6 separate regions of the Homo sapiens genome follow, and all the other regions are linked to region 6. The links come from fine-mapping of genetic effects on gene expression. A gene starts in region 6. Each other region holds a variant in brackets. All regions are shown on one strand. Distances are from middle to middle. Region 1 overlaps SUPT3H (SPT3 homolog, SAGA and STAGA complex component). Region 2 overlaps SUPT3H (SPT3 homolog, SAGA and STAGA complex component). Region 3 overlaps SUPT3H (SPT3 homolog, SAGA and STAGA complex component). Region 4 overlaps LOC101929770 (a long non-coding RNA gene). Region 5 overlaps SUPT3H (SPT3 homolog, SAGA and STAGA complex component). Region 6 holds the start of SUPT3H (SPT3 homolog, SAGA and STAGA complex component).

What was found. PIP is the estimated chance that this variant, and not a neighbour inherited with it, causes the effect. A credible set is the group of variants that fine-mapping cannot tell apart.
Region 1: its variant is the best candidate, but not a certain one, in a credible set for the expression of SUPT3H in tibial nerve (GTEx, PIP 0.55).
Region 2: its variant is the best candidate, but not a certain one, in a credible set for the expression of SUPT3H in cerebellum (GTEx, PIP 0.69).
Region 3: its variant is the best candidate, but not a certain one, in a credible set for the expression of SUPT3H in whole blood (TOPMed, PIP 0.63).
Region 4: its variant is the best candidate, but not a certain one, in a credible set for the expression of SUPT3H in prefrontal cortex (BrainSeq, PIP 0.76).
Region 5: its variant is the best candidate, but not a certain one, in a credible set for the expression of SUPT3H in whole blood (TOPMed, PIP 0.53).

Annotation. Positions count from the first base shown.
Region 1 is chr6:45,333,196-45,338,272 of GRCh38, forward strand. The region is part of intron 2 of SUPT3H (SPT3 homolog, SAGA and STAGA complex component); the gene reads right to left. The region is part of intron 2 of RUNX2 (RUNX family transcription factor 2); the gene reads left to right. Among named protein-coding and RNA genes, the nearest start is that of RUNX2, 7.4 kb to the left of the region's middle. RefSeq lists a silencer at 1-183. The variant C/CT (reference allele first, on the strand shown) is at 2,988.
Region 2 is chr6:44,826,060-44,831,136 of GRCh38, forward strand. SUPT3H (SPT3 homolog, SAGA and STAGA complex component) reads right to left here. Exons shown (of 11, transcript NM_003599.4): 11 at 667-3,798. The coding sequence ends at 3,757. It overlaps LOC101929770 (a long non-coding RNA gene), which reads left to right. Exons shown (of 3, transcript XR_926855.3): 3 at 3,529-5,077. Among named protein-coding and RNA genes, the nearest start is that of MIR586, 370 kb to the right of the region's middle. The variant T/C (reference allele first, on the strand shown) is at 2,383.
Region 3 is chr6:44,907,555-44,912,631 of GRCh38, forward strand. The region is part of intron 10 of SUPT3H (SPT3 homolog, SAGA and STAGA complex component); the gene reads right to left. Among named protein-coding and RNA genes, the nearest start is that of MIR586, 290 kb to the right of the region's middle. The variant A/G (reference allele first, on the strand shown) is at 2,022.
Region 4 is chr6:44,807,060-44,812,136 of GRCh38, forward strand. All of the region lies in intron 2 of LOC101929770 (a long non-coding RNA gene), which reads left to right. It also overlaps a transcript of SUPT3H not described here. Among named protein-coding and RNA genes, the nearest start is that of MIR4642, 370 kb to the left of the region's middle. The variant G/A (reference allele first, on the strand shown) is at 2,408.
Region 5 is chr6:44,930,378-44,935,454 of GRCh38, forward strand. It overlaps SUPT3H (SPT3 homolog, SAGA and STAGA complex component), which reads right to left. Exons shown (of 11, transcript NM_003599.4): 10 at 2,276-2,386. Among named protein-coding and RNA genes, the nearest start is that of MIR586, 260 kb to the right of the region's middle. The variant G/A (reference allele first, on the strand shown) is at 2,700.
Region 6 is chr6:45,375,786-45,380,862 of GRCh38, forward strand. It overlaps SUPT3H (SPT3 homolog, SAGA and STAGA complex component), which reads right to left and starts at 2,149. Exons shown (of 11, transcript NM_003599.4): 1 at 1,983-2,149. The region is part of intron 2 of RUNX2 (RUNX family transcription factor 2); the gene reads left to right. RefSeq lists silencers at 1,791-2,070, 2,391-2,440 and an enhancer at 2,081-2,624.

The DNA of each region.
Region 1 (5,077 bases), 43 kb before region 6:
GAAATTCACTGGATATATTTTTTGATTAATGTGTTACGATTCAAAAAATAACAGGGAAATTCTATACCTTATTAAAAGGGAGTTTCCTTACATTTTTAACCACAGTCAACCACAAGCTTTTGTCCATTCAACAGCACATACACATGAAACAGACCATACATTCCCATACAACTGTTTTAAGACCTGTATAGCAATTCAGATTAAATGCTCTTTTACTGTATACAGTATCTTCACTTTATGTAGAATTCTTAGGAATTTCCTCCCCTTTATACTATTTATTAAGGGCATAGGACTCAAGATTTGGAACAGTGTTGAGTGGATGTAAGCAACATGTTATCAAACACTTTAGGTTTTGTTGTTACTGCTGAATAGAAAGAAGCCTAACTAAAGCAAAGTTTTTCATAAACACTAATAAACAGAAACTGCATCATTTAACATGATATAAAAAACAATCATTTTTTATATCATTTAACCTGATATAAAAAACAATCCCCAAATAAGATGAGCTGTAGAATTAAAACAGGCCTTTAAAGGCTAGTTGCTACATAAGTACTTAATACATGAAGAGAAAAAAATTGTTATTCATGCACTTCCTCTACTCTATATTCTTGTTAATACTCATAAATCCAATATACACCCAAGGAACAAAAATCATACCAAGGGTGACTTGAGCTCTAAATAAAAGATAAATGTTTACCTTGATTAGATGATTTTCATCTTTTAAATCAACTGCCCACAAAACAAGGAAATCTCTGACATATATACATACGCAATTTCGATAATGTTTGAGATATTTAAAAATTATCATACTGATGTTAGAAAATTTACCAAGTTAACATTATTCCCAGAAATATATCTAAGATTATTTTGGCAAACAGTTTAAAGACTCTTTTATCTCTACTATTCCTATTGCCAATTCTCTTAATTATACATTAGTTACATCAGATTAGTGACATTTCTAAAAAGGTATATCTAAATATCCTATGTAAGGCAAATAATTTTCACCACAAAGTCAAATAAGGTAATTTTATTTTACATTTCAGTTACATCGATTTTTTACATCAATGATGTCTACCAGAATCATTATATACCATCAACTATAAACATATATTTACATAATAGACTAAGTTAAAACTCAAGAACTTAAATACACATTTGTAGGTTCCCCTAAATTACATGAACCATACCATTATTTACATATTCCTTATAGTCATGTATCTTACACCTACATCTATTTTGTGCTTCAGGAAAAGCAAAAAAAAAAAAAAAAAAAAGACAAAGTTAAATGCTAGCCAAATCACAATAACAATCATCAATAAGGTTTGAATACATATATATGCAGTCTTTCTTTAGAAATATCAGAATAATAACGTGATATTCCACAGAACTTCACATGAACACGATGTATTTTTACACCGAAACAAAATACGTGTCATATATGTTCAACTTAAATTTCTTCTGGCTATGTTTGTCTTAACATTTTTATACATGGCATATACACATGCATGAGTGTGAATGCATTCACACCAATGACTACAGAACTTGTAATAATGATTATAAACCAGGAAAAAAATTGTAAATTATGTAACTGAGGTACTATAGTTCTGTCATGAAATATAATCAAAATTTTTTTGCATGTAAGTTAACAAATGTCAATCTATAAAACCAGTAACAGGGATTAGGCATCTACTAGGAATTTCAAGACTAAAATAATCAATCTTATAAAATCCAAAGATGTTATTTTCCAGTTATAAACTTAAGTAACAATAATTAAAAACTGATATCAGTTAAACAAAGTATTAGAGTTTATAAGGGCAAATATGAATGGAATTAATTTGCTAATAGATTCCTATTTATAAATATTATCTCAAAGAACAACTCTGGCTTGAAGCTAAACAGGTATATTTTCTCATTGACCATGTAACCTGGGTAAACAATTTAAGCATTGAATTTCTAATTTTTCTATGATAATTGCTAGAATTAACTTTCTTTTTAAATTTCTGTACTGAACTTCCCAGTTTAAGACTTCAAATTCCCAATATAATTTTAAGTGAAAAGATATAATTTTACTAAATGATTACAAATTATTTAAATGTATCTAAACAATGTGAATTTACTTTGAAGCTTAAAAGAAAGGATCATGACATTTATTTTACTATGTAATATGGTATTACATTTTACAACATGTCAACCTACTGCTGTATCACTATAACGATCCTAGAAAATCCATGTGTATCAAAAAGGTACACAGTATGGATTCTCTTCAATCAATTACAATTTTATTATAAGATACTTTAATGCAAACACAGCTCATTAAAATACATTTTTTTAGATAAAAGTAAATTCTCATTTTATTTCATAAACTGTCAGATTACAGATATCTGTAACAACTGTACAGGATCACAGAAAGGAAACTTCTTTATGCTAACAATCCACATTATATCAATCACTGTGTTTTCCATAAAGCTGATACCTGTGAAAGTACATAAGCATTTCATACTAAGAACCTAACACCCAATTCAAAAATATTAAGACACCATGAAGTAATCTATGAGAAAACTCCCATCAAGACAACAGCATCTTAACATTAGGCAGGATAAATGGTTACAAAAGATAATCTAATAAGATTAATTTTTTTACCTCTCATGAAATCTGTAAAGCATTTCGGTAATTCAGCTTTTGACAAAATGCAGAAAAACTTGCTACTGCTCTTATAAGAGTCAATGCAAAAATGAAATATTTAAGAAGATAATGCCTATGGAGATACTACTTACAAAGACAATGTGCTACAGTGTATTTCTAAAGAAATGGAAATATACAAGTCAATGTACTCCAACTTTTGATCATTAATCCAACCTCCTTTCCACAGAAGAAACTCCTTTTCACATATTATAAACTCCAGTGTCCACCCAGAATTCTTCTATTCTCCCAGTTTTCAAAACCAAACACATATACATTATTTCTCTCTCTGTAATTTAGAAGGAAAA[C/CT]TTAACATTTTAAAAACTTTTTACCACTAGTAACCACTTCATTTTAAAAGTGTTAGCTAGATAAGGACAATGAGTACTGTCACGAAAGCTTTATTCTTGATTATGTAGTAAAGATTTAACAATATCCCTCCCTTATAACACGCATAAGCATATTGCAGAATATTTTTGTACACCAATAGGACTAGAGAAAACACATAAAGTGATCTGTTTTTAACATTATCACTCACAAGTACCCAGGAAGAAAATTTAGAGCCATGTGCTGATTATTAGGCTTATTTTTATTTTCATAAATATTCTGGTCCTATCAAGACACAAGACACACTAAAATCAGAATCTATCAAGATACACTTAAATATTTTTTAAAACATCAAAATACTTGGCTTAAATTGCTAAATTATTTAATTATTAAATGGTTAAACCACTCTATATATGTACAATAAATTTTTACTCAGACGTATTCAAACAATTTTCTTGACTATAAAATTAAATCCTGTGCTCCAAGAAATACTGTAACACAGTATTTTTAATAAAGTATTTACTTACAAAGTAAATACATATTAGATGTACAAAAAGATAGGAAGTGATTTTCTATAATATAACTTCATTAATAATACATGTAACTCAAATTTTCTACCTCTGTTTTAAACTTTCTTCATTCAAATACATGGTCAATTCACTTAATTTTTTTGATCCAGAAACATCTTAAATGCTGTTTTAAAGGAAACTTTAATAAAAATGGCCTTACTCATTATTATAAACTGGCATAAAAATATTTTTTGAAACTTGCTGTGAAAACAGTGTGATCTGAAAACTTACATACTTAAAACTTATGACATGAACACAAAAAATGCAAGCAAATGCATAAAACTACATAGCAACAATAATATAGTGAGAAGCCAACCCCGAACATAGGAGATATACATATGCTTTCTAAAATAAAAGCTCAAATTAAAGCTTGCCTTTTGAACTGCCCATATGAACAGAACAACATGCCAATGACTTACAGAATTTTTTTCTAAACTGGCAAGACTAAAAAGAATCACATCCAATCCCTATTTTGCAATTATAATGTGTGATACTTTCTTTAACCATAAGACTGTCATTTATTCTAAATTTGCTGGAAAAGCTTGCCATTGCATTTTTCCTGTACGTACCTCTTCCTTATCAATTATGGTGTATCTCCAGCATTCGAAGAAAAAAAAGCTCCAAAACTTTAACTGCATTTAAAATATATAATTAAATCAATATATACAAGGGTTACTCTAAAAATACTCATTTCTAGAAGGCCAGAAAATCTTATTTTTTTAAGCTGATGCATCTACACATAGAAAGCAACTTTTAGTAAGTTCTTTTGCTACGCCATAATGATCTGCTCCAGAAACTCAAGGGTACCTAAAACAACGGACTACCTGTTCTAGCCATGCTTAGGAATGTGTCCAAATCATTTTTATTGATTTAACCTTTATAGGAATGCTACATATCCTCAGAGCAAAACATTTTGAATGTATTTATAATATGATACACTTCTAGAAGCCATGAAAAAGAAAGCTAAAAACAAATCTAAGACGCCCCTCCACTGTTGGTTGTTATGTTTATTTTTGTTTATTTGAAACAAATATTAAATACATATTAAATAATTCTTTTTGCGAAAACTCACTTTGGTACTACTGTAAGTAGAAATAAGATTTTATTTTTTTAGAGAAAAAGTATATTTAAGTAAATTCTAACTTTAAGAAACAAAACTCCTGACTTGACAATGATGTTATCACCTATAAATTTTAAAGGATTCTAAATGCTTCTTTCATACTCTAATTACACATTAATCATGGAACCTATAAACAAATCAAACTTAAACTTACAGAATTTAGTCTTTATTGAATAAACTTAAGTTGTACTCTAGTTTTCATCCTCAGAGTTTACAGATAAAGTTCTGTGTAGCCTATCTTTCTAGCTTTCTGTAAGTTGTACTTTACAAATGGTTTCAACAGCTAATGCCTGTATTAGGTATGTTTGCCAAATAATTCACAATATTATGCTTCCTCACATTATGGTTCAGCATTTGCTAACTTAAACATCACCTCTAAAGAAGT
Region 2 (5,077 bases), 550 kb before region 6:
TTTCTTTAGGTATCATGGTATCAGTATCCGACTTACAACATTTGAGACTTTCTTTAAGAGATACGACTTTCTAATATTTGAGTTTTTAACGACATCTGGCCCTTATTTAACCATCACATTTACATCCAATTCCTGCAGGCAAAGTTTTGTTGTTTAAGCTTGGCTAGATGCCCTCTGCAGAAAGCCTTTGCTTTAATGAACACAATTCCACAAAAACTGCTAGAGTTCCCTGCTCTCTTCTCACCCCTGCCACTGTACAACAATAGCATGTAAAGTTTCATCTTGAGTTTCAAATAAGAAGGTAAAAATAAGAAACTGTGTTGCTGGAGAATTAGCTCTTTGTAGTGGCCACTGCTATGACATATTCAACTTGATGCCCTTAGATTATTTGCAGAGTGTTTATGTACTATGAAATGTTCGGCCAGAGCATACAGGAAACTGTAAAATATTTTATGAGATGTATACATGGTTGATGGTAGAATTTTAAATGTAGCCTGGAAAGGTTCTATCCAAATTCCAGGGGGGCAGATGAGAGAATATGTTCTCTTTAGTGATTCAGTTTTACACAAGAGGTTATATGAACTGGAAAGCATTGCCTGATTTGAGAACTACGTAAAAAAATTCATAAAATTAAACTTTATAATTAATTCTAAACAAGTAAACATGTTTTCTTTCAGACCAAGAATCACCAGTTATGTTTATTTGTCTTCTACATGGTAAAAGCATCAGACATGGCTTGTTTATTATTTTATAAAAACAAAGAACAGCAATAAATGAAGGGTTCTCCCCAGATACAGGAATTATATACACCATTTAAAAAATATTTGTGCTTCTGATGGTTTTCAAATAAAAAGTCTTGGTTTTAAAATTGAAACAGTATTTTTGAATCACAACGATTACAATCTAAGAAGGCAGGAAAGCTAATGGCATAACCCTCTAAATGGCACGTTCAGAAAGTTATACTTCCAAATTTAGGTGAAGGGAGAAATATTTCTACTTTCTTTACCCTTAAATCTAGGAAGCAGTATCAAGAGACGCTATTTATTTATTGGCTTATTTATTTTCAAATTCAGTCTCTAAAATACAAGGGACAAAAAATAGAAACTAGCTTTGTATATTTCCATTTGACTTAGAGTTAAGCCTGATGTGTAAGATAACAGACTGTTTACTTAATACCACAGTCACACTGAAGATTTTACTATATAACACGTATGCTTTAGGATGTATCCATAATTAGTACAGTTTTTAAATAAATTTACATCGTTGTCTAGGATAAATATGCCATAAAACCCCAACATGTCTTAGTAATATTCTTATGCTAACCCAGTATGGTAGAAAATACTGTATAATACCGACTGAAAATTAGGGACCATCGATTCTCATCTCTGGTCTGTCACTACATTATTGAGTGATCTTAGGAAACTCACTTTCCCTCTCTAGGCCATGGTTTTTTCATTTGCAAGATGAGCAGCTGTTCTTAATGATCTCTAAGACTATCTTCTGCTCTAACATTATGATTATTGAGAAAATAATTTACTGAAGTTTTCTTAAACATTCCTTCTGTAAATTTTCTTTTGTTTCTATAGTCACTGCTGAAGGAAGTTTTATTTCACTTCAAATTTAGTATTGTGCAAAGAGTCAGAGAAAGAACCTAAGTATAAAAAATAGAAAAGGGAATTAAAAATATTGAGCAATTATGGGGACATGTAGGCTGGTTCAGGACAGACATAAATGACCTTGCTTTATTCTAAATTCAGCTTACTGGCTTATGATGAAAAATGAAAGGTTTTATATGAACTTACTGGGCAAAACCAGATTTTATAAATAATTACCTGTCAGACTGTTCAAGATAGACAAACATATGCCAGACCAACAAAAACACAGACCTGTCATATTTCTGAGAGAAATGTACATTGAGTCTTCCTTCTCTGGGACTATAAGGAGATCAGGTGGAATAAAACGAAGGAAAAAAACCCAAACCCTATATTTTCTGCCTTGTGCATACTTTAAAATGTATAATGTGGGAGAGAAGGAATTTTGATGTGAAAAATTATCCCCTGAAAATTTTATACCATCTATAAGCCTGGCAGATCAAAACCAAATACAATAAATGCTATCGTTTAAAAGTTAAGTTAAGTTAGGATGTTTACTGCAAGCTTGTAATTTTCCATGATTATGGATGCCAAGGAAAATAAGAATGATAAAAAGTTTAATCATAATCATACATTTTAACAAGCATAGATGGAACATCAAAATCCTTTGGGAATATTTTGATATTATATATCTATCCGTGCTTTTTGTTTCTGAAATGCAAATTTTTTCTAAAAAGATTAACATAGAGCAGGTAAATGACAGTTAACAAATGTAAATAATGTGGCATAA[T/C]AATATTAACTGAGCCTCATAATTCTTTGAGTCTGATGGTTTTCAAATAAAAAGTCTTGAATTTAAAATTGAAACAGTGTTTTTGAATCGCAACTATTACAATATAAGAAGGCAGGAAAGCTAATGACATAACCTCTAAATGGCATGTTCAGAAAGTTTTATACTTCCAAATTTGGGTGAAGGGAGAACTATTTCTACTTTCTTTACCCTTAAATCTAGGAAGCAGTATCAAGAGAGGCTTGCTCTCTTGAGCAGTATCAAGAAAAAGGAGCAGTATCAAGAAAAAGATCTTTCATGTTTCTCATTTCTGTTTTTATTAATTCTTTAGAAAGAGTGTTTCAAGTATGTGTAAAAACCATAAAAGTAAAATTATACAAAACTCCCACAGAATTAAAGAAATAACTTTCTTTTTTGCAACTGAAGTTTAATCAGGAACTGTACAATTACATCTGCTATATTTTGGTTTGTTCCAAAGAGTTACGGTTCCTCATTTACTGGAGAAAGTATAGATGCCAGAAGGGTAGCTCGGCTGCTAACAGCAAGAAATTACCCAGCCCACATTTCCAGTCTAGGTGTGGTAGTGCTTTGAAGGGAGGAAGCAAGAAATCACTCTGCTCCCCTTCTACTGATTCTGAATACTTGGCTTCTAAATGTGTATGGCATGTGCAGGAGTGGTGGATCTGGGGATTGGAGGAACAGGAAAAGGAGGGAAATGAAGATGGAGGAAGAGGTTCTGTGTGAGGAAAAACACACATGAAAGGCAGATGGCAGGAAGTTGGGAAGCAGGCATTGAAAATGACACATACTATAAGTGGAGTGAAGGGGAAAGGAGGTGGGAACAGGTGATTTATCAGGTCTGTTAGATCTTTGATTACTGTAAGTTTATAAAATGGATAGCTGTCACTAAAACACATGTCAACAAATGTTGGAAAGTAAAGTTGGTGGTGTAAGGGAAGGCGAAAACTCACTGTCCTTTTAATTTTGTTTCCTTGTTCCAAACCTGGATTATAAAATATATCAAATAAAATGCAGACAAAACGCTGGACGGGGGCAACCACTGCTTTTAAGGTATGTGAGCTGAGGGCAGTAAATCTACTCAAATTAAAATTTCAAAACTGTGTGATCTGCATTCTTGTCCACCTACAGACTATCCTAAACATCCTGCCATTAATTAGCTGAACAGCCCATCTAGTAAACAAGACCGATGGTTGAGGGGCTGGAAAAGAGGAGGAGTCAGCAAGTTGAAAGTCACAACAGACCAGCCCACTCCCTCAGATAAAAGAAAGGTAAATTTGTATTTTATTTTGTTCACAAGAAATCACCTTAATATAACATTGCCTTTCCTGTTGTTGCAGGCACATCACAGTTGTCACATCAGCAGGCTAGAAAAGCCATCCCATTCCTGCGGTAGGCATTCTGTCAAAGAAAAAGAAATCTGCAATGAATTATCACATGAAGTCAAACAAGGAAAGGAGGCAAAAAGCAAGCAGAGCCCTCTTCCTGTTTTGTAGACTCTGCTGGCTACAATCTAATAGAATGCTTAATCTGAATATTTCTGGTGGCAAAACTATAGCAACCATTCTGTCTATTAAAAAGTCAGTGTGGTTAACAAGTGGTTAGTGATTCTATTTTTGGGAAGTAGCAGATACATAAAATAAGACATCCCATTTTGTTAACTGATTGGGCTTGGTTAGGCCAAAGAGATGTATTGAATCTGTTTGTCTTTTATAAACATGTGTTCTCTATTCGATATGCTCAGGAATCACTTCTAACTAACTAAGTATCTTAATAGTCTATAAATTACTGACTCATTACTGGCCCTTCCCGGGCCTAATTTATAGTCTGAGTGAAAAGCTGTCGGAACAGACACTAATAGAGGCCTCTCCTCCTCCCTAAAATATGATGATCTCAAAGGAGTTCTGTATAGTTCTGCATATTGTAGACAGTATCAAAAATGCAAATCTTATATAATTTTATATACATACCTGTACGTACAGATGTACACATGGATATGCATGGTGGGATAAAATACTCCCATAAAAGAAAATGGGAAAATGGATTCTAAGTGCAATAATTAATACGTTTCAGTAAAGAAAGAAAAGTTGCATGCTTTTCATTCCAAGAGACATATTTTGCATTTCAGTGTTGGGAGACCTGGATCACACAGGGTCTCTGTAACATCCTGAATTCCACCATAAGACCCAGAGGGGAGCAGAACTAAAATTCAGGACTTAGGAATAAAATTTCCCTTTCCCTGGCACATTTTTAATCATTTAAACTAGTAACAGTCACATCCAGAGAATTCATAACCGTCAATCTTTTCAGAAAAACAAAGAAAATCATAAAATTCAGGTTAGGGATTTTTCCCCCTTAGGCTAATAACTCTGAAGCAGTTCTGGAGTCTGTATACTTCCAGCCCAATGAATTAACCTTGAACAGCCACAGCCATATTTTAAGAAATACAGAATAACCTTTTACGATCAAGATAATGCTATGGAGGCAGTGAAATCTTCATCTTAAAAAATAATTAAACCACATTTATAATTAATTATACTAAAAATGGAAAGTAGACTTAACCCTTTTAGAAAGACTTCCATCAACATGAGGTGAAACAAATATAGTTTTCTAGATAACCTTCTCTTAATCATAAAATTCAATTAACTTGAAAACCTTCTCTCCAAATATCCTGCTTAAG
Region 3 (5,077 bases), 470 kb before region 6:
GTAATCCCAGCTACTTGGGAGGCTGAGGCAGGAGAGTTGCTTGAACCTGGGAGGCAGAGGTTGCAGTGAGCCCAGATCATGCCACTGCACTCCAGCCTGGGCAACACAGTGAGACTCTGTCTCAAAAAAGGAAAACAGTAAAATTATTATACTCTAATTTGTATGCGGTTGTTACAGGCATTATTGTTTTGGAAGGTGATATTTTTCATCTTGTACACAACATGGCTGTCTCCATTTTGTGAGATGCTGACCTCACAGGCTTTCAAAATTTCTGATTTGCTAAAAATATTAGTAATGAATGTTTATCTATATTTTCCTCAATGTTAAGTTAAAGAAAAAGAAAAACAAAACTTGCTTAGTTACTTTCTGAAGATAAGTTTTGATGATGTGGCTCTGACTATGGTAAAGTAAGGAACTGTGGAGGACCAAAGAGCCAGGAGAACTTGAAAGAGTAGCAAGAAATAACCAAAACTGCTGAAATCCATTTCATTGACCTTCTCAAGGAAAAAATTTTAACAACTCCCCATGTGTCCAAAGAATTTAATTTTAACCAGTGCAAAAATGTAGCAAGATTTTTAGAAATAACTTTTTTTTCTTTTCTTTTTTTTTTTTTTTGAGATGGAGTCTCGCTCTGTCACTCAGGCTGGAGTGCAGTGGAGCTATCTGAGCTCACTGCAAGCTCTGCCTCCTGGGTTCACATCATTCTCCTGCCTCAGCCTCCCAAGTAGCTGGGACTACAGGCGCCCACCACCATGCCCAGCTAATTTTTTGTAATTTTAGTAGAGACGGGGTTTTACCGTGTTAGCCAGGATGGTCTCGATCTCCTGACCTCGTGATCCGCCCACCTAGGACTCCCAAAGTGTTGGGATTACAGGCATAAGCCACCGTGTCTGGCCAGAAATACCATTTTTAAAAGCTAGACACTGGGCACTGAATCTCAATTCTAAACAGAAAAGACATACTACGCATGAATTCATGGAACTTGCCTGGCTGCCAAAAATTTGCTATTTCACACTGGTACTATGGGGAAAGTATTTAAGAGAACTGCCAACTACGCAATCTAGCTTCGTAAATTAGACCCATTCCATGTGTAAAGGAAAGTCACCTTTACACCCCAGAAAGTCTTCACTGCAAGCCAACTTTGTGCCTAGCACTATGCAAAGAACTGTGGAAAGGTAGGTATATATAATTCCTGACATATCAGACATGTAGGCCACTAAAATATCTGAGTACAAACTAAAAAAAAAATATTGAAATATTTGGTTTATAGAAGTACTCACTGGTTCAGCCTTACTCTGAGCTAATATTGTCTCTAAAATTTTAATAAATAGGTAATAGTGGAAAATTGGTTTAGAAACTCTAAATTATAGCATAGGGAAATATTAAATAATAAGCTTTCATCTATCTCCTCAGCAACAACTACTTTTATGATTTTCATGTGTCCTTCCAGATAATTCTATGTATATACTAGCATATATATGTATACACATATAGCTATAAAAATATATCTTTAATTACCCCCTTAATATAAATAACACTATGTATCTTTCTGCTGCTCTATACCTAAGAGGTGTGTGTGTGTGTGTGCGTGTGTGTGTGTGTGTGTGTGTGTGTGTGGTTACTAACATATTTTGGGAATTTTTTCTATATCATATGCTAAACTTGCTATCCATATTTGGGTGTATTTCTGATCTTTCTAGGCTGCTCAATTTATCTATTTATGTATTAACATCAAATTGAATTACTGTAGCTTTGTAATGTTTTGATATTGGGCCTAGTTAATTAATAACTCCCTCCCTAATTATACTTTTCAAGAAATTTCCTGGCTCTTCTTATATATTTCATTTTCTATATGAAATTCTGGATCACCTATTTAGTCCTTTCCCCAACCTCTGATTTTGATTTTTAAAAATTGGGATCAGAAGTGCTACATCTTTAAGCTCACACTTATCCTATAAAATGCTCAGATTAAGTCTTAACCATGTAGCATACTAATATATAACAATTATCTTGAATTTTAT[A/G]GTTATCTAGAATTTTCCTATGTACGAAGACTGTTCACTTTTATTATCTCCTTTAACCTTTTCAACCACTATGGCACCATGCAGGGGCCTGTTTTTTGACTCTCACATTACAGATGGAGAGAGGCGCATGGACTTGTCCTCAAGGCCTGTAGGTAAGGGCTCTGACACCTAGCTCAGGCCCAGGGCTCTTCCCATTATACCAAAGGCTGAGGGCATTACAAGTCTTCAGGAAACATTTTCAAAATAGGGAATGCTACCATTTTAGAAATGTTGGCAGGCTATCAAATTTTCAAACTTTAAATGAAGTTTAAAACACAATAATACTGGCATGAATACAGTGAAATGAGAACTCTCACGAATTGCTGGTGGGAGGGTAAAGTAGCATAGCGCTTTTGGAAAGTATTTGGACAATACATACCAAAAGTCTTAAAGTGTTTCAGAGGAAGAAGAAAATTGCTACTGGGATTTCTGGGCTGCAGTTCCCTCTGCTCATGAACCCACTTCCCTTGCTCCAGTTGGGCCTATTTCCCCACTGTCTTCTGAGTCCTGTAATCATGCTCAACTCTCTACCTGTCTGTAGAACCTCCCTTCCCCTATCTTCTCCTTCTCTCTTTTCCCCTACACCTTGGACCTTCAGGCTGGCAAGGTGTCACTGAAACCTGACCTTCCATGTTTCCCAACATTTCCCATTAGCTCCAGATCCTTACATGTCATGCCTTCATTCCCAGTCTCTTATCTTCTCCCAAGGTTTCTCTACTGCGTATCTTGCTGGTGGAGAAAATTGTTTACTATATTCCTTTCATTTTTATTTCAGAATTAATAACCATTGTTCTCATTTTCCAATTAAATGACAAAATTAAAACTTTTTCAAACAATGCACATCCCCTTACTTACTTCATGGGATTTAAGTAACTTTTCCAGAAATAACAACAAAATAAACCCCAAAATGATAAGACAGTCACTGAAATACTTTTCTCTGAATAATATGCCTTTATCTACCATGACCAGAAAATATTATCTAAAGAAATTAAGATTGTGAATCTTCTTCATAATTAGGCAAATATTTTCATTTCCTTTTTCTAATTTCTCTTTGATTTAGAAAATGTATTTTCTTTCAAATTAAAAAAAAAAAAGGGGGCCAGGCATGGTGGCTCACGCCTGTAACCCCAGCACTTTATGAGGCCGAGGAGGGTGGATCACTCGAGGTCAGGAGTTCAAGACCAGTCTGGCCAACATGGTGAAACCCCATCTTCACTAAAAAATACAAAAATTAGCCAGGTATGATGGCAGGTGCCTATACTCCCAGCCACTCGGGAGGCTTAGGCAGGAGAACCATTTGAACCTGGGAGGCAGAGGTTGCAATGAGCCGAGATCATGCCACCGCACTCCAGCCTGGGCAACAGAGTGAGACTCCATCTCAAAAAAAAAAAAAAAAAAAAAAAAAAGTAGCTTCTTTTATAAATGAAATAGTCTAACTTAGATATAATTGTTTTTGATGAGTTTTTTTTTAAAGCTATTGCTAACACTATTGGTAAGCTTTTGCTAACATTATTATCCATATCAAGTAACTATTGATAGCACAATTCAAAATTGATTTCATTTTCCTCCAAAAAGGCTTTGAGAATCTTCTGTTGTTCTCTTTTAGTGCATCTTCTTTTGTCTTAGAATTAATCACTTAAATTTTTTAGTCAGCATTCCCACCACATGTTTGACAGTGGTTGCAAGGTCAAATTTGGTATATATTTAATTAGGATGTTTTTTCCTTTGGGCAGATTCAGAAAATATCATAACTATCTTCCAAATTGTTCCAAAGAATGTCACTGTTATTGACACAACTCCTAGCAATACATTCAAAAGACGATGCATTACTTACGGCATAAAAAATACTTCTGGAATTTATGCCAAAATTCTGGCATGTATACCTTTTCTTTTGTCAGCTGTATTAGTACCATCATGATGGTCTTGCCCTTCAGATGATTTTAAATTTTTAAAATAAAGCTGCAATTTTTATTATAATTTTTTGAAAATTTAATGGACTCATTAAATATTTCTATTTTAAAGAAGGTATTCACAATTCTAATGTCTACTATCCATATAGTTGCCAATATAAGGAATGACTATTACAGTTCATGCACTTTACATCTAGGCCTAAATATGTACCAGTGTAAGGGTAATACGAATTGTTACTGTTTTTCAGCTAACATTTGCAACTGCTGTGGATACTGTGTTAATTTGTGAGCATATTTGGAACCTTGAATTAGAACATGGAGAGAGGCAAGAAAACTGATGCTTGGCACCACTAGGAAACAATGCTTCCTTATGCCAGAAACTATTGCATTCATACCCAGAGAAAGGCTTTGATGAGTTAATTTCCTTTCCCTCTTAAATAAAAGCTCTGCAGCTCAAATCTTCCCCTTGCTCTTACTTAAGCAGTGTCTGTCTACGAAGTCATGGCAGCACAATCCACAGAACTTCATGGAATTCAGCAGCAGTTTCCTTTGGAGGCAGGGGGTGATAAAATATATATAACAAAATTTGTCATTTTAACAATTTTTAAGTGTACAAGTCAGTGGCATTAATTACATTAATAATATTGTACAAGCATCATCATCTACTTTTTCATCATCCCGAACAGAAGTTCTGTGCCCATTAAGCAATAATTCCTCCTCTTCCCCCACTGCTGTAGCTTCTAATCTACTTTCTGCCTGTGTGAATTTGCTCATTCTAGATATTTCCAGTAAGTGGGATCATACAGTATTTGTCCTTTTGTGTCTGGCTTATTTCACTTAGCATAATATTTTCAAGGTTTATCCATGTTATAGCACGTATCAGAACCTCACTCCTTTTTATGGCTGAATAATATTTCATTGTATGTATATACTATGTTTTGCATCCCCATTCATCATCAGTTGCCTCTTATTCAGGGCACATTGTAAGAGATGTGGAGAAGTGGAACCTGAACAATGTTTGTGATAGGAGATACTCTCTACACTGTGGGACCTGGGGCAGGAGTCCTTCTGCCTGGTCTGAGAGCAGTAGTGCTGCCCCACAAGAAT
Region 4 (5,077 bases), 570 kb before region 6:
AGGCCAGGGTCCTCACTAGGCAAGGGACAGACGGAGTTCCAGTGCCATCCTAGAATGGCCACCTCTTTGCCCACATGATGTTGTAGCTCCCCATCTCCCTTAAATTGCAGTGCTTGGAGCAGAGAGCTCCCATATGCCTCTGATGTGCTACAGTGTCAGCCTGTTCTGGCTTTTGGAGGGAAGAACAATTTCCAGATTGAGGCTGAACAAAAGGAGCTGTCTTAGGCATTTGACCAAAATATATTTTATCAAAGGATTTGCCATCATTGGAGATACTCTTTCAACTATTATAAATGAATTTCTCCCTGTTTGCATTTCTTATTTAGTGGCATGGCCTGCAGAAACACAAAATTTAAGCAAGAGTACTTATCTATTTTTGAACACAAACATAACATTTTAATTAACAGTACTTACAATAAATAATTTAAAGAACATCTGATTTCTTTTTTACTATTTTTTCCTTTTTAATTAATCAGTAATTTGTGGGGAGACAATCTGAGACTACATAAACCACTTCTTATCAGTCTTCCTCTACCATGGATGATCTTTTAATGCTACTATTCCTTCTTATTTATTAGTTGGCATTCTTCTGCAAAGAAGACTTTTCACTTTCTCCTCTGTTTACTTATTTATACTGCATGGACTCATGAATATTTATTCGATGGGTGACAAACTAGTACTATCATTTATTTTGATGCTCAAATTGTCCCAGATTTGGCCAGTAAGAGCCTCTTCCAGCTCCATTTTTGACCTCTCCCCATGGTTCTTTGACCAGTTCCTTATTTTCTTATGCAATAAAATATTCAAGGCTCATTTTTCCAGGCATCTTTCCCTGCCCTGGTTCTGGGATCAGGCATTTCTCCAAGGAACCCTGAATACCAGTGGGGAATGATATTTAGAAACTAAGATCTGGGCACTAGGTGTGAAAGATCATCACTTTTTAAATGTGTAAAATTTATTTGGAAAAATTTAGGGTGCTTATAAAGAGCTAAGCATGTGCCACAGGTGAAGGCTGCCTTTGGATCCTGAAAGGGTTGGAATTCTAAGAGAAATCACCCCCCGCCCTCACCGGCCCTTGCCAAATAATGTAAATATGTCACGTAGTATGCCAATTACAGTTTCTGCAAATTGATAAGATCTTTAGGCTTTTCTCCTTCTAAGCAAATACTGTTGTCTAAACCTATTTCAAAAGAACATTAGTATCACTCCTAACTGACAGCTCTTGATGTCTGCTAACTCACAGTTCAGTCATTCATCAACGGCGCAGAGTGATTCACAAACTTAATTTCTTGCCAATATCAGTGACTTTAAACATCCATTGTCTCCGAACCCCCCTTTATGAATATAAATCACACACCTACAAAGGCCTGTCATGAATGCAGCGGGCCACATGCAGTATGTCTGTGCCTCATCATTCCTTCTGGCATGTCACCTTAGTAAACAATGTATAGAGTCTCATTCTAACCCTTGAGTCTGTGGTCTTGTTTTCTACAATGGTGGCTGCTGAGCTGAGGCCCCAAGGAAGGTGAGAAGCCAGCCACACTGAGCCAAAGGGCTGGCAACAGTGACTGGAGCAAGGCTGGACATACAGGATTCCCTGTCTTTAACTCCTTTAAGTAAAGTCAAGGGAAAGCAGAGTTTGGTATCCGACTGATGCAGACTGTTGGCTTTTACTTGGCATGTACTTTCTTACTGCTTGAGAAATGTTATTTTTTCCTTAAACTTCTTTCTCATTAATCTTGTGTTAAGAGTGGTCTAACCCTGTTAGTTTGGTAGGCAGCTTCTGTTCCAATTAGCATATATTTCCATAAGTGTTGAGTGGGGAAGGGAAGGAAAACGCAGAATTTCTCAACTATTGACCTTGAGGGACTTGTAGGAAGGTGTGTCTGACATGCTTGTAATACAACTGACTCTGAAAAAGCTCTAGTAAATGGTTAAGTTATGGTTGGCTCTGATGATTTATGCTGAACAGAATAAACTATGATGGAGACATAAAATATTTCTAAGCTTACACTTTAGTCACTCAATATACATGAAACTCAATCTTCTTACTTAAAAAACAGATAGAGCACTGAGAATCTCCTAAGGAAATCAAGTTGTTTATTAGTCTTGTGTTCACCCATGTCATGCATACGAAGATTGAAGAGCTGAAAACGCTTTGATATTCTCCACTGTAAGGCACTGTGTGATACCCCGCTTAAAACTATTCCTACCATTCCACCAAGGGACTTTCCTTTCCACTGACAAGTTGAAGGAGGAATTCAGAGACAGTGCTTCCGTAGCCAAATTGTTTCATTGTTCAAGTATATTGATAGGGTGGTTGCCTAAGCAGAAAATGCAGAATTAAACGAAGGAAGCTTGTTTTGAGAGCAGGTCTGTCACCATCTATGGTACATATGACAAGGAA[G/A]TAAACAGGAAGTGCTGAATTGGCTTGGTTTACTCCTACAGGGACAGAGAGAAATAAAATCAGTGTTTACCAAATGGAAAAGCACAAAGTTGGTACAGAGAGAAATGTTATTTTCAGGCTTCTAAAAAGGCATTACAAATAACACAAAGTTTCAAACCTATAATTAAAAACTATTTTTAAAAAGTTTTGATTAGGTTCCCTTCAAAAATAGGCATTTTAGGCTGAAATAAATTCTTAAAGTTTTGACTCCCACTTATGCTGGTTTTTCCATAATCCACACTCCATAAATGCCCCTCTTAAATAACAGATTTCAGGAGTAAAAAATATGTCTTAAAGTCATCTAGTAGAACTTCAATGCTCCCACTTAATAGATGAGGAATCCAAGACCCCAAAGTTAAAGCAATTTCTCAAACACCACACAGCCATTAAGGGCAGGGAGAATTTAGGATCCAAGTTACTCATCAGGCAAGAGTTACGAATAGATATAATTTCTTAGTGCCAGATCCACGGAGGAAACAAACCTTGTGGTGAAGGGGCCAAATGTATTGTTGGTGTAGTTTTTTCCAGAAGCCAAGACTGGGCCTGTGGGTCCAAACCGAGTATACTTCTGTCCTTCAGCAGCTCTGGACAAGAGCTAAATACCATCTAAATGCCTGACTCCAGAATCATGAGAAATAAAAAAAATAATGTTGCCTTAAAGCCACTAACGTTTGGGGTGGGTTTGTTACACAGCAAAAGATAACTGAAACAGAAATAGGCAGGATCACCCCATGAGGCAAGGAAGCACATCAGCTGAGTTGTTTACTAAGGGCAAAGGCGATATGGACTGGCTAACAGAAGACGGAAGTTATAAATACTAGCAAGGACCATTGGACCAGTTACAGAAATGATGACAGTAGTGGTTGTAAGTATTTCTTTCTTACTTTAATATGAATACAGCATTTTTTTGGTATTAATTTTCTTTACTCCCCCACTTCCATTCCCTATCTTTAATAGAAGATGTGTTAATAGTGGCTAGCCATATAGCTCAGTATTTAAGTTACAGGATATTAAAGAGGGAGTGTGACTCAGAGAAAAGAGGAAAAAATATCACCCCAAAATGGATGTGTCATATAGGACTTAATAGCCTTTTACTAAAAAAAAAAAAAAATGCACTTTTGGCGGGGCATGGTGGCTCACGCCTGTAATCCCAGCACTTTGGGAGGCTGAGGCAGGTGGATCACGAGGTCAGGAGATTGAGACCATCCTGGCCAACATGGTGAAACTCCGTCTCCATTAAAAATACAAAAATTAGCCAGGCCTGGTGGCACATGCCTGTAGTCCCAGCTACTTGGGAGGCTGAGGCAAGAGAATCACTTGAACCTGGGAGGCGGAGGCTGCAGTGAGCTGAGATCGTGCCACTGCACTCCAGCCTGGATGACAGAGCGAGAGACTCCATCTCAAAAAAAAAAAAAATTTATATTAGAACAGTTTTACATTTACTGAATTGTGAAGACAGCACAAAGTTCCCATATACCCAACACCTACTTTCCTCTATTATTAGTAATTTACATTATGATACATTTGTCACAATTAATGAACAAATATTGGTATGTTATTTCCTAAAGCCCATACTTGATTCGGATTTCCTTAGTTTTTATCCATTGTCCCGTTTCTGCTCCAGAATTGCATCCAGGATGCCACATTACATTTATGTCATGTCTCCTTAGGCTCCTCTTGGCTATGATAGTTTCTCAGGCTTTCCTTGACAGTTTTGAGGAGTGTGGTCAGGTATTCTGTAATGCCTCTCAAGTGACATTTGTATGATGCTCAAGATTAGAAGGGGTTATGGGTTATTGGGAAGATGACCACAAAGGTATTTATACCCTTTTTGGAGGACAGGGTTAGCATGCATCATGTTAGGTGGAAGCATTTTGCTGTTGACTTTATTTGGAGGTTAAACATGGTTAAAAGATGTATGTATGGGTACCAAGTAGACAAAGGTTGGATAGACTGCAGTCATTGGTAGTGTGCCAACTTGGTGAAACTTAAACTACTTTCCCATTCCCTACAGGGTTCTGAGTTAGAGTTGGCCAAAAGGGAAATGTATGCAGATGTGGAAGGTGGAAATGAAGCAGCTATTGATCTTTGAAGGTCTTGCAGGTACAGAGAAGGCACAGAAATGCTGACAGGTTCTAGCTTGTCTTCACATTCTTCTACTCCACATTCAGTTCTGACTGAAGAGGCTGTTGACCAACAGTGGCTCCCAGCTTATGCCAGACACTCAGTGGTGGGCCTGCCAAGGTGGCAGTTATACAGAAGCATGGCTTCCTGCATACCTTCTCATAAGCCATCACTTTGCAGCCACTTTTGGCACTTGGTTGTTCTTTGTTTCTCACATTGATGGGTTGGTCTTTTTTTTTTTTTTCTCTGATCCTCCAACTTCCTTCCTATGCTTTCACTTTCCTAGTTCTTCTCACAACTGTATAAGGTCTGATTCCTGTAATCCTCATCCCATAGTACACAGTGGTTCTGATTCTGTGACTGAACCCTGACTGATAACTCAAGGTATGAGAGACTGATTTTCAAACTGCAAACAACTACAGAAGCTGGAAAAAAAAATACAAATGCAGTTGTGTAATAGTTTTCTATGATGCCGTAACAAATTACTACAAATTTAGTAGCATAAAT
Region 5 (5,077 bases), 450 kb before region 6:
CTCAAAAAAAAAAAGAAAAAAAAATTATTACAAAAATTAGTTGGGCATGGTGGCAGGTGCCTGTAATCACAGCTACTCAGGAGGCTGAGGTAGGGAGAACTGCTCGAACCTGGGAGGTAGAAGTTGCAGTGAGCTGAGATCGTACCAATGCACTCCAGCCTGGGCAAACAGAGTGAGACTCCGTCTCAAAAAAAAAAAAAAAAAAAAAAAGTGCAGGCATATTCACTCTTGTAGTGCGCAAATTCTCATAGCTGAAGAAAATGGAGGAGACCTTTCCAGGTGGTGGTCCCCTCCTGAGGAATAATAACACCTTGGGTGCCCCTCTGGGGTGGAGTTTGTTACCATTTGTTGTTGATTTTGTTTGATTGTTCTACTAGCGGCTAACTGAACCTTCCAGGTCATGGCTTGTTTTATTTTCTAGATGTATTTAAATTAAGCATTTTAAAATTGTGTCATCAGTTTTAAAAAGCCCATTCTTTATGTTTATTAGATCCAAATTAGCTTAGGCAATACCTGAAGCTAGCTTAAAGTGCATTTTTATCATATACTAATACTAACAGTCTTAGATTGTAAAAGTAGTAATACATAAGTACCAGGTTGGACATGGGGGAAAAGATATACACACACACATGTATGTAAATAGTGTCATCAACCACGATGGCTCTCAGGTGATCTGTCCAGTCTATTTTAAAAACAAAAACTTTGAAGAGAGAAGCAGCTACCGCTTCTTTTTGAGGAAATAATGCAGACTTCATGATTAGGGCATTTTCTCCTTGTATCAGATACATTTTCCTTTATGTAATCTTATTCATTACTTTTAGTTACCATTTTAGGTTATTTCTCAAAAATCATGTTTCCCTTTGCTATCTTTTAATTGCTTCTAGATTATTATCAAACACTGCCTCTTTTTTCTTCTTTTTCCCTTCCACTGTCTCAACCTATTCATCATTATTTGACTGTTTTCGATGGATTTGATATTTTTAATCTTTCATTATAAGTTTTTTTTCACTCTCAGTTGGTTTTTAAATTCTTACTTCCAATTATCTCTTATTTTTCTCATTCATAATTTTTCATGTTCATCTTCCTTCTGGCCTGTCATTTAAAACAGCTTCACCCATCATGTAAAAGAAACTTGATTTAATTATTTCTTTTCAATTATAAGACTTCAAAAACATTCATGCAAAAGGATATATTGCTTTAATCAGCAATATTAAAATCATGTTCTTATATAAGATAAACTTCAAATATTAAAAGTGCAAAGTTTCACCATTACAGAGAGCTTCTGGAGACATTTATAAAACATGTTCTTCCTGTTACACAGAGAATCTATCTACATAATTAACAACAACTAAAAAAAATAAAGGATGGAAAGAAAGCATTCTATTTAACTAAACATAAGGAAAAAAGATAATATAGACAAAATCATGACTTTTATGAATAGTAAAATCCACTCAGGTAAAAATGTATACTATGTAATACTATTTATTTTCTCATTTGTTTATGTATAATGTTATACATATACATTTTCATTAGCTTGTTAAAACAGAGTATCAAAAAAGTAAATTTGACTTTCCTCAGTTAGGTATATCAAACTTTACTTTCTGTTGAACTACTTCCTTATAAACAGAGTAGGACTTGAAGAAATTTCTCTTAACACAAATAAGATCTTTTTTTTAAAGGGCCATAAGATGAGCATTTAATTAAAACACACACACCTGCACACACTTTCTTTAGACTGTTGAAATATCAGGTCTTTAATTCCCCATTAAAACAACACAAAACCCTGATTATAAGTTTTCAAATCATTTGAAGATGTAAAAGGCTGTCTGCATTTCAGCTTAGTTCAAAGCCAGTAAAGAAATATCTCTTCTTCTTCCAACTAAAAGCATGTTTAGGAGAAGGATATCTGATAGAAGTGGTAATGCCAATCTAACCAATTTTAAAATATAAAGTGCTACTAGCAATATTTAGATACATATAATTTGAGAATAACGTTTTATAAACCTAAGCTTTGAAAAATAGAAACTATAAACCTCAACAAAAAAACTTAATTTGTAATTGAAAGAAAATAATATTTTGTAGAAAAAAAGTGTCCTTCCAAAAAGAGATGAAAATGACTTTCATTTCCCAAGAGAATTATGCCACTTTTATACAACAAAATTACAGTCACCACAAATTGCTTTCAACAATTCCATTGCTTCTTCATTTGACCACTTGAAAATCAAAATTCTTTCATATTATAAATATAACTTTTTATAACTCTGTTATTACGTACTGTGAATGGGGAAAGTGGGCCAATCCTGTGGCTGTAGCGTCGAATGGCCTCTCTGATGTGGCAGGGCTGGATGGCATCGCTGTGAGCCTCAACACCACAGGCTGCAGTGCTCTGCGACAGAAAAACACATAAATTGTTACTAAATCAAAAACACGCAACAGAACTACAGTGTATAAATATGAAAATAAACCTTTACAAAAGAGACCGGTTTTTCCCTTAGGATGCACATCACTACTGCCATATACTACATCTAAAAAAGAATTCCATTAACAAATCAAAGATGACTTTTACATGACCCCTTTCTAGCAGACCTACCAAACGCAATTTTTATGCCCACAATATTTCACCTAAGCCTGCATGTCAAGACACAGGAGAATACAGCCACTTGCCTGCAGATAAAAAGTGTCATGAAAGCTTACTGAAA[G/A]AACCACAGGAAGTTATTTTTTTAAAAAAAACATTTTAACATTTATTATTATAAACGTTTCTTAGGAGCTTCTTTGGCACATTTCTGAAATAACTTGAGGGTCATCAACTTAAAATGAAAAATGTTAAATTATGATACATTTATTTATCATACCTGGGATTGTCATAAGACCATTTCAACTTGGTTTCTAATTTTCTAGGTATCTCAGGACAAAACAAAAACGAAACCAACAACTTTCTGTTTTAATTTGCCGCATCTGTAAAAGGCAGGTTTGCAAGCACAAAAAGATACAAAAAAGATAAGGATTATTTGCGATGAGAGTGTGAATACAAACTTAAGAAATTATAGATGTGTATATGTGTGTTCAGCATGATTTTTCAAAATAACTTATAGGGCTAGGGTTTAGCCCTACAAGTTACCAGCTCTGCCAAGATACATAATATCTCGGGCCTCGGTTTCCTCACCTGTAAATTGGGAAAACAATTATAATTGCTTGTAGGACTGTTGTGAAAATTAAATAAGTTGAAATACATAAACCACTTAGAACAATGCCTGACACATGCTAGGAAATTGTTTTATTTTTATAAAGAGATGTTTCATTTTGTCACCTAGACTGCAGTGCAGTGGTGTGCTCACAGCTCACTGAAGCCTCAAACTTCTGGGCTCAAGCGATCCTCTGGCCTCAGCCTCTGAAGTAGCTGAGACTAAAGGCAAGTGCCACCACATATGGCTAAAAAAAAGGATTAATTTCTTTAGAGATATGGTCTCGCTATGATGCCCAGGATGGTCTTGAACTGCTGGGCTGAAGTGATCCTCCTGACTCAGCCTCCTGGGTAATGTTAGCTAGTAATAGTATTAGGTTATTTAAATTAAGTGTTAAAAATGGGATCGCTAAGTTTTTGAAATGGAAGCTCATTTACTTCAAAGTATAGTAGGTAGCAGATGGCAGGCCATCAACATTAAAGAATTAACTTGCATATTACTATAACGGGTCTAGAAGTCATTTGTAGTCACAGAATTAATATTATTTGTTTTTCTGATAATTACTGTATTTTTTTGATAATTAATACATTTTTTACTCATAATTCTTTGTAGGGAATATAACTCTATAGATAGCAACCTCTATGGATAGCAATTTGGCAAAATCTTATAAAAATGAAAAAGAACAACCTCTTTTACTCAGCAATTTCACCTGTAAGAATTTATCCTACAGATATATTGCACAGGTACAAAATAATATATATACATAAGGATACTTACTATAGTACTAAATGTTCATTAATGAGGGATTGGTTAAATAAATTATCCATTCAAAGAAACAGAAACCAAAGCAACCACTGAAAAGAATGAGGCAGTTCCCTACATACTCCTATGGAGCTATCTCTAAGATATTATATGAAACACTGATCAAAAACTGAAGTAGGAGGTTTACTATGGTAAGTCTTTGTGTTCCCCTAAAATTTGTACGTTGAAATCCAAGCCCACAAAGTGATGGTATTAGGATAAGAAGCCTCTGGGAATTGATTTATCCACGAGGGTGGAGCTCTCATGAATGGAATTAGTTCCCTTTTAAAGAGACCAGGGAAAGACCACTCACCCCTTCTGCCATGTGAGGTTTGGGTGAACAGATGACTGCCTATGAACCAGGAAGTGGGCCATCACAAAACACTGAATTTGCCAATGTCTTAATCTGGGACTTCCTAGCCTCCAGAACTATAAGAAATACATTCCTATTGTTTATAAGCCACCCAGTTTACAGGATTTTGTTATGGAAGCCCAAATGGACTAAGATAGAAGCTAAGTTAGAAAAATTTTGTGACTGCCATTTGTAAGATATGGAGACACATAAGCCAGCCTGGCTGAATCATGCTATTTTTGCCAAAATGTGACATTAAATTATATTAAAATAAAAACATTGAATTTTGTGAAAAATGTCATTAGAGTTTCCATTTTGCCAATTTCAGGTTTATCTGCCATAATTCAGCAACTGTTAACATTAGCATAATGAAGCTACTAGGCGCACTTTTATACTTTCTTGATTTGCTCATTGAGTTCTCCGGAAGGAAGCCTTTAAACGTTATAATCCCAGTTTTTTTTTTTTCCACCTCAACAAATATCTTCACATTCTCTTTGTCTGTCAACATCTAGTCCTTTATCAAGGTGCTAATAATCTGTTCAAATTAAAAATGTATCCAAAGTTTAGAATTTTTAATATAGCAGTGATTCTAGCATTATATTCTTCAAAATTGCTTCAGAAGAATTAACATAAAATGTACATATTTGTTATTAATAATCTTATATCAGCTATAAACACGTGTGAAGAGCATTATACTTATACATCAATTCATCTTTAGCATCCTGATTAGGCCTAAATTTTA
Region 6 (5,077 bases):
TTAGTTTTATTTTCAAATTTGACTTTATATACACTTGCTTTAAAAAAAAAAAACAGATGCACATATTTCAAGTAAAGTAATTTTGTGAAACATCTATTACCTAATTTCACTTATCTCTCCAAAAGATTTGGATAACCATAAAACTAGTTCTAAAATGTCCTAATGCTCAAGAGTTACAATTTTTCAAATCGCTTTATTACACAAAAGGTTAAAAAAGAAAAAAACTTGAATAAGAGCTGGAAACTTCTCACTGAAAAACCAACCAAAGTGGTAAAAGATAGCAGAAACCGACAATCACAAAATAGTACAATAATGTTTAAAGAAAACTCCAGTTAATACTGTCATAGCTCTCTGAATCTGGCATTAGCTGTACAACCTAGGAGACAACGTTTTGCTTTAATTTGTCAAGATGTAAATAAGTACTAACAGACCCATGGTCTGAACTGCAGTATTTGAATGAAAGGCATTATTTGAATATAATTACAATTCCCTATGGCAATAAATGTTCCAAAGAGCTGGCTTATCTGATTTAAAACTCAACCATATCAAGACTCGGAAGGACTCTCAAAATCTAAATTGTAGCCCTGTGCTGTCCAATGCAGTAGCTACCACTAGCCACATGTGGGTATTTAAACGTAAATCAATTTATTAATTTATGAATAAAATTAAAAATTAAGTTCCTCAGTGACACTTATCACATTTCAAGTGCTGAAGAGCCACTGTGCCTAGGCTACCACTAGTGCCTAAAGGCACAGATTATGGAACATCTCCATCAAGGCAGAAACTGCTAGTGAAAAGTGCAGCCCTAGACTTAGGCATACTTCGCTCCAACGTCCCGAATATCCTGAGATAAGAAACTTTCCATAGCACAATGAAGAGCATTCCATTCTTGCAAAGTACTCTCACGAACTGTTTCTCATAGGCAAATTCAGCCTCTTTGAAACATTCACCAGAAATTCCCCAAGTTTTGTCCTTCAAGTAAATCTTTGCAGGGCGAATTTAATTCCTCTTCCAGAGTCTGCCCTTCACATATACTAAGACCCCAGGTCCTCTCCTTCCAAATACATACATACATATATACACATACATATACTTATATACACACATATGTATATACATATATATACACACACATTTCTTTCTACCGAAATAACTTAACATTTCTATTAGCCTCTTGGAGAAATGCTAATTTATCCACGTGTACAGTAATACTACGTCCAGGATCGTCTGAGTGTCAAATATTACATATCACTGTCTTCATAACTTCACTCTCACGTGTGAGACCAAGTGTCCTGATTCTCTGAGAAAATAAGGTCACAGTCATTCTGAACTCCTAAAACGTGGAGAGCAAAAGCAGAGCTAATATGTACTGAGCAGCACCTGGCGCTGTTCTAAGCGTTTAACGTGTATTTTCTCATATAATCCTCACAATTCTGAAATAGGCTATAAGATCGCCATTTTACAGACCAAAACAAGGCAAAGACAAGCTAAATAATTTCCCCAGGGGTCACAGACGTGAGCTCACCCCACAGAGAACACAGCGGATCTTTTCCTCTTTCTGGATGCTACACTCCCACTAACTACCTAACTCTTCTCTCGCCGTGCCATAAAGCAACAATTTCCCTCTTTAATGATTCCTCCGGCAGCCCCCACACTACCTAGACGACCCGCGCACCCCGCTTCTCAGCACAGCCCAGCCCCCCTCACCCCACGCCCACCCGCCAAAAGGGAGGAGTCGAGAGGCAACTCCACGCTCGGCAGCGGAACCAGGGCGCTGCGCCCGGCCAGCGCCTCCCACAGCCGCCCTCCCTTCAACACTCCGGCGTAGACCACGAAGACCCAGGCAGCCGCCCTCGAGCCGGGGCCAGGGCGTGGCCGGCGCGGGGGCCCAGCGACGCTGGGATCTCCGCTCTGCGTCCCTCCCGGCTCTCTGACGTCTCCCCCGCCCGAATCCCCGCACCGCCCCCCGCAAGCCCTACAACCTCTGCTTTAAGAACCCTTGGAGGCACTGCTGCGCTTCCCGCGAGGAGAATGTGGGGGTGGAGATGGTGCGGTTTCTGCTGCTGCGGCCCGGGACACGCTTGGAAAGGGGCGGGGTGGGGGACTGAGAGTGTGGAGTGTAGAAAGGGAAAAGGTGACTCGGCTGTGTGACGGGGCGATGGGGGGGGTACAAGATGGCGTGAGCCCGACTCTCGGTGGGGCGGGGGTTGCGGAGACTGAGGAGTAAGCGATACGGACGCCCCCCGCACTGGCAGTGCGGGCGCATGCGCGCTTGGCCAGGTGGCGCGCGCTCTCCCAGCCCGAGCGAGCTACTTCCGCCACGCTCGCCGGGGGCGGGGCGTTGTGCGCGGCCTTCAGGGCCCGGCTTGGGCAGCGCTGAGCCACGCGGCGGCGTTTAGAGCTGGGGACGCTGGGAGCGGAGTGGGGACGAGCTGAGATCGGTCAGGGTGTACAGGGTGCAGGCTTGAATTCTTTAGGAATTGGGCCCGAGAGGGCTAGGATTTTTGAAGGATTGGGTGACCGGCACTGGAAGTTGATTTTCAACTCCGAGGAAGAGATTCACCGTTCTAAGCTTCTTTCCAGGAATTGGAGTGAACGGGATCTTAATGGGATTGCGCGTTTACAATGGTGAAGGGAAACGGAGGGGTCTGAACGCTCCCCGCAGGGCCGCAGTACAGGCGTGTGGATGTGGAACCCTTTCTGGGACGGCGAAACCAGCTCTTACGCCGCTTCCGCGCGCCATCACTCCCTACCCTGACCTCGCACAGAATCTGTTTCATTAATCTGCTATTAATGTTTTTTCCCCAACTCATGTTACTAGACGCAGGCGTTTAACTACCATGTTTTGTTATTGAAAACTTTTTCTACTTGAAGGCTTTTTTTTTTTTTTGGACGATTCTGTGTTTAGATTTTGGCCTGTTCCTCATTTTAAAATCTTGCACCCCCAGTATTGTACTGTACATTCTGTCCTGCCACATTTAATTGATATAGATGTAGTTCTTTAAATAATACAGTAGTCGTAAGACAATGCTTTCAGTCTTTCACTCTTTATATTATATGAAGTCTTATTTATATTTAACATTCTTATTGCCTGCTTAGAGAAGAAAACTGGTTATCCATGCTCACCTTCACACCTGTGTTGTCAAATACTATAAAATACTGTATTTTATAGGGATTCAAGTATTAACCCTCACCAAGTCTTTTTAAGCATCACTGCTTCAGTTATTTTCTTGCCTATAGATACTGTGAGTTCTGAAATCCCTTCCTTCTATTTGCTTAAATTGTTTAAAATAGCAACTTATTTGGTTATTTCCTCTGTGGATTGTAGTTGAGTCTGCTAGTGTTGTGTTTGATTCTCTTTAATCTCCCCAACGCTTCAATATTTGCCAAATACCTAAAATTCCAAAAGAATAGATATATTTAGGATGTGAGAGCTCAGCTTGATGTGTAAATCAGGGATCAATTCATTGCTGAGCAAAGTGTGCAGTATAAGGGAAAGTAACAGAGTGAGTATGGTGATAACTTCTTACATGGGAAGACTGGTTGAAAGCTCTTTTGAGTACATTACCAAGAAATTAGTTAACAGAAGATTAAGAGAAAAATTAATGTTCACATCTAAAGAAACATAAAAGTAGATCATTTCAATTAAAATTATGTTCAGTTAATGTTATCATAGAAGTTCCTGCACTGGAGTTTCACCTGCATCAGATGAGTACCTGTTTGATCCAGTTTATCAGGATAGAATCCAGATCATCTTATTCTAGGATACTGGTGTCCAGCCTGCATAAAATCACACACAGGCCAGGCGCGGTGGCTCACGCCTGTAATCCCAGCACTTTGGGAGGCCGAGACGGGCAGATCACAAGGTCAGGAGATCGAAACCATCCTGGCCAACATGATGAAACCCCGTCTCTACTAAAAATACAAAAAAGTATCCGGGCGTGGTGGCACGTGCCTGTAGTCCCAGCTACTCGGGAGGCTGAGGCAGGAGAATCGCTTGAACCTGGGAGGCGGAGGTTGCAGGGAGCCGAGATCACGCCGCTGCTCTCCAGCCTGGCAACAGAACTAGACTCCGTCAAAAAAAGAAAAAAAAAAATCACGCACAACAAAAGTTAATGAGAGTGACACATGGAGAAGGGAAACTGAGTTAAGGCATTGATACAGGAAGTTTAAAAATTTATTCTTAGGAAACTGAATTGGGCTGTTGGCAGAGATCTGATTTTTAAAGTCACATGAGTTAACCAGGTTCCTACCTCCTGGAATTTCTTAAAATCCATTTTTGAAAATCTGATTTAGCCATAATTTTGCTCATAGTTTGAGACCATTGCTATATACAAAGGGCCAAAAATATTTTTGCATTACATTCATATCAAATATCCTAAACTATCAATGGTACTAGGGTATCTTAATTATAACAAAGCTAAAACAGCGAAGCTGTTGCTGAAGTTAAGGCTTTGATGACTACCACCTCTCAGAAAAACAAGTGATTTTCCAAGGCATGTGGGGAAAACACATCAGGAGACCAAGTTAATTTATCACTCCACAAAAATGTCTCCATGACCTGGACAAAATTGTTAAAGAAAAATGAAGCATTGTTAGCGTAGACTTTAACGTTCCTCTGGCATGTAATATTCACGTAGACTCACTAGTGCAAAGAGAAAGTGCATGTATCTAAGTAAAAGTGCCCATGGGCATCTTAAAATGATTAGGTAGTAAGCCCACATTCTCAAAAGAGCAGCAGAAGTCATGGCTAATATGGAACCATCTCTCTGATTCCATGGAAGTGGTTTCTTTTTATTATTATTTTTTGAGACAGAGTCTCGCTCTGTCACCCAGGCTGGAGTGCAGTGGCCCGATCTCGGCTCACTGCAACTTCCTCTTCCCCAATTCAAGCGATTCTTCTGCCTCAGCCTCCTGAGTAGCTGGGATTACAGGCGTGTGCCACCACGCCCGGGTAATTTTTGTATTTTTAATAGAGACGGGGTTTCACCATGTTGGTCAGGCTGGTCTCAAACTCCTGACCTTGTGATCTGCCTGCCTCGGCCTCCCAAAGTGCTGGGATTACAGGTGTCAGCCA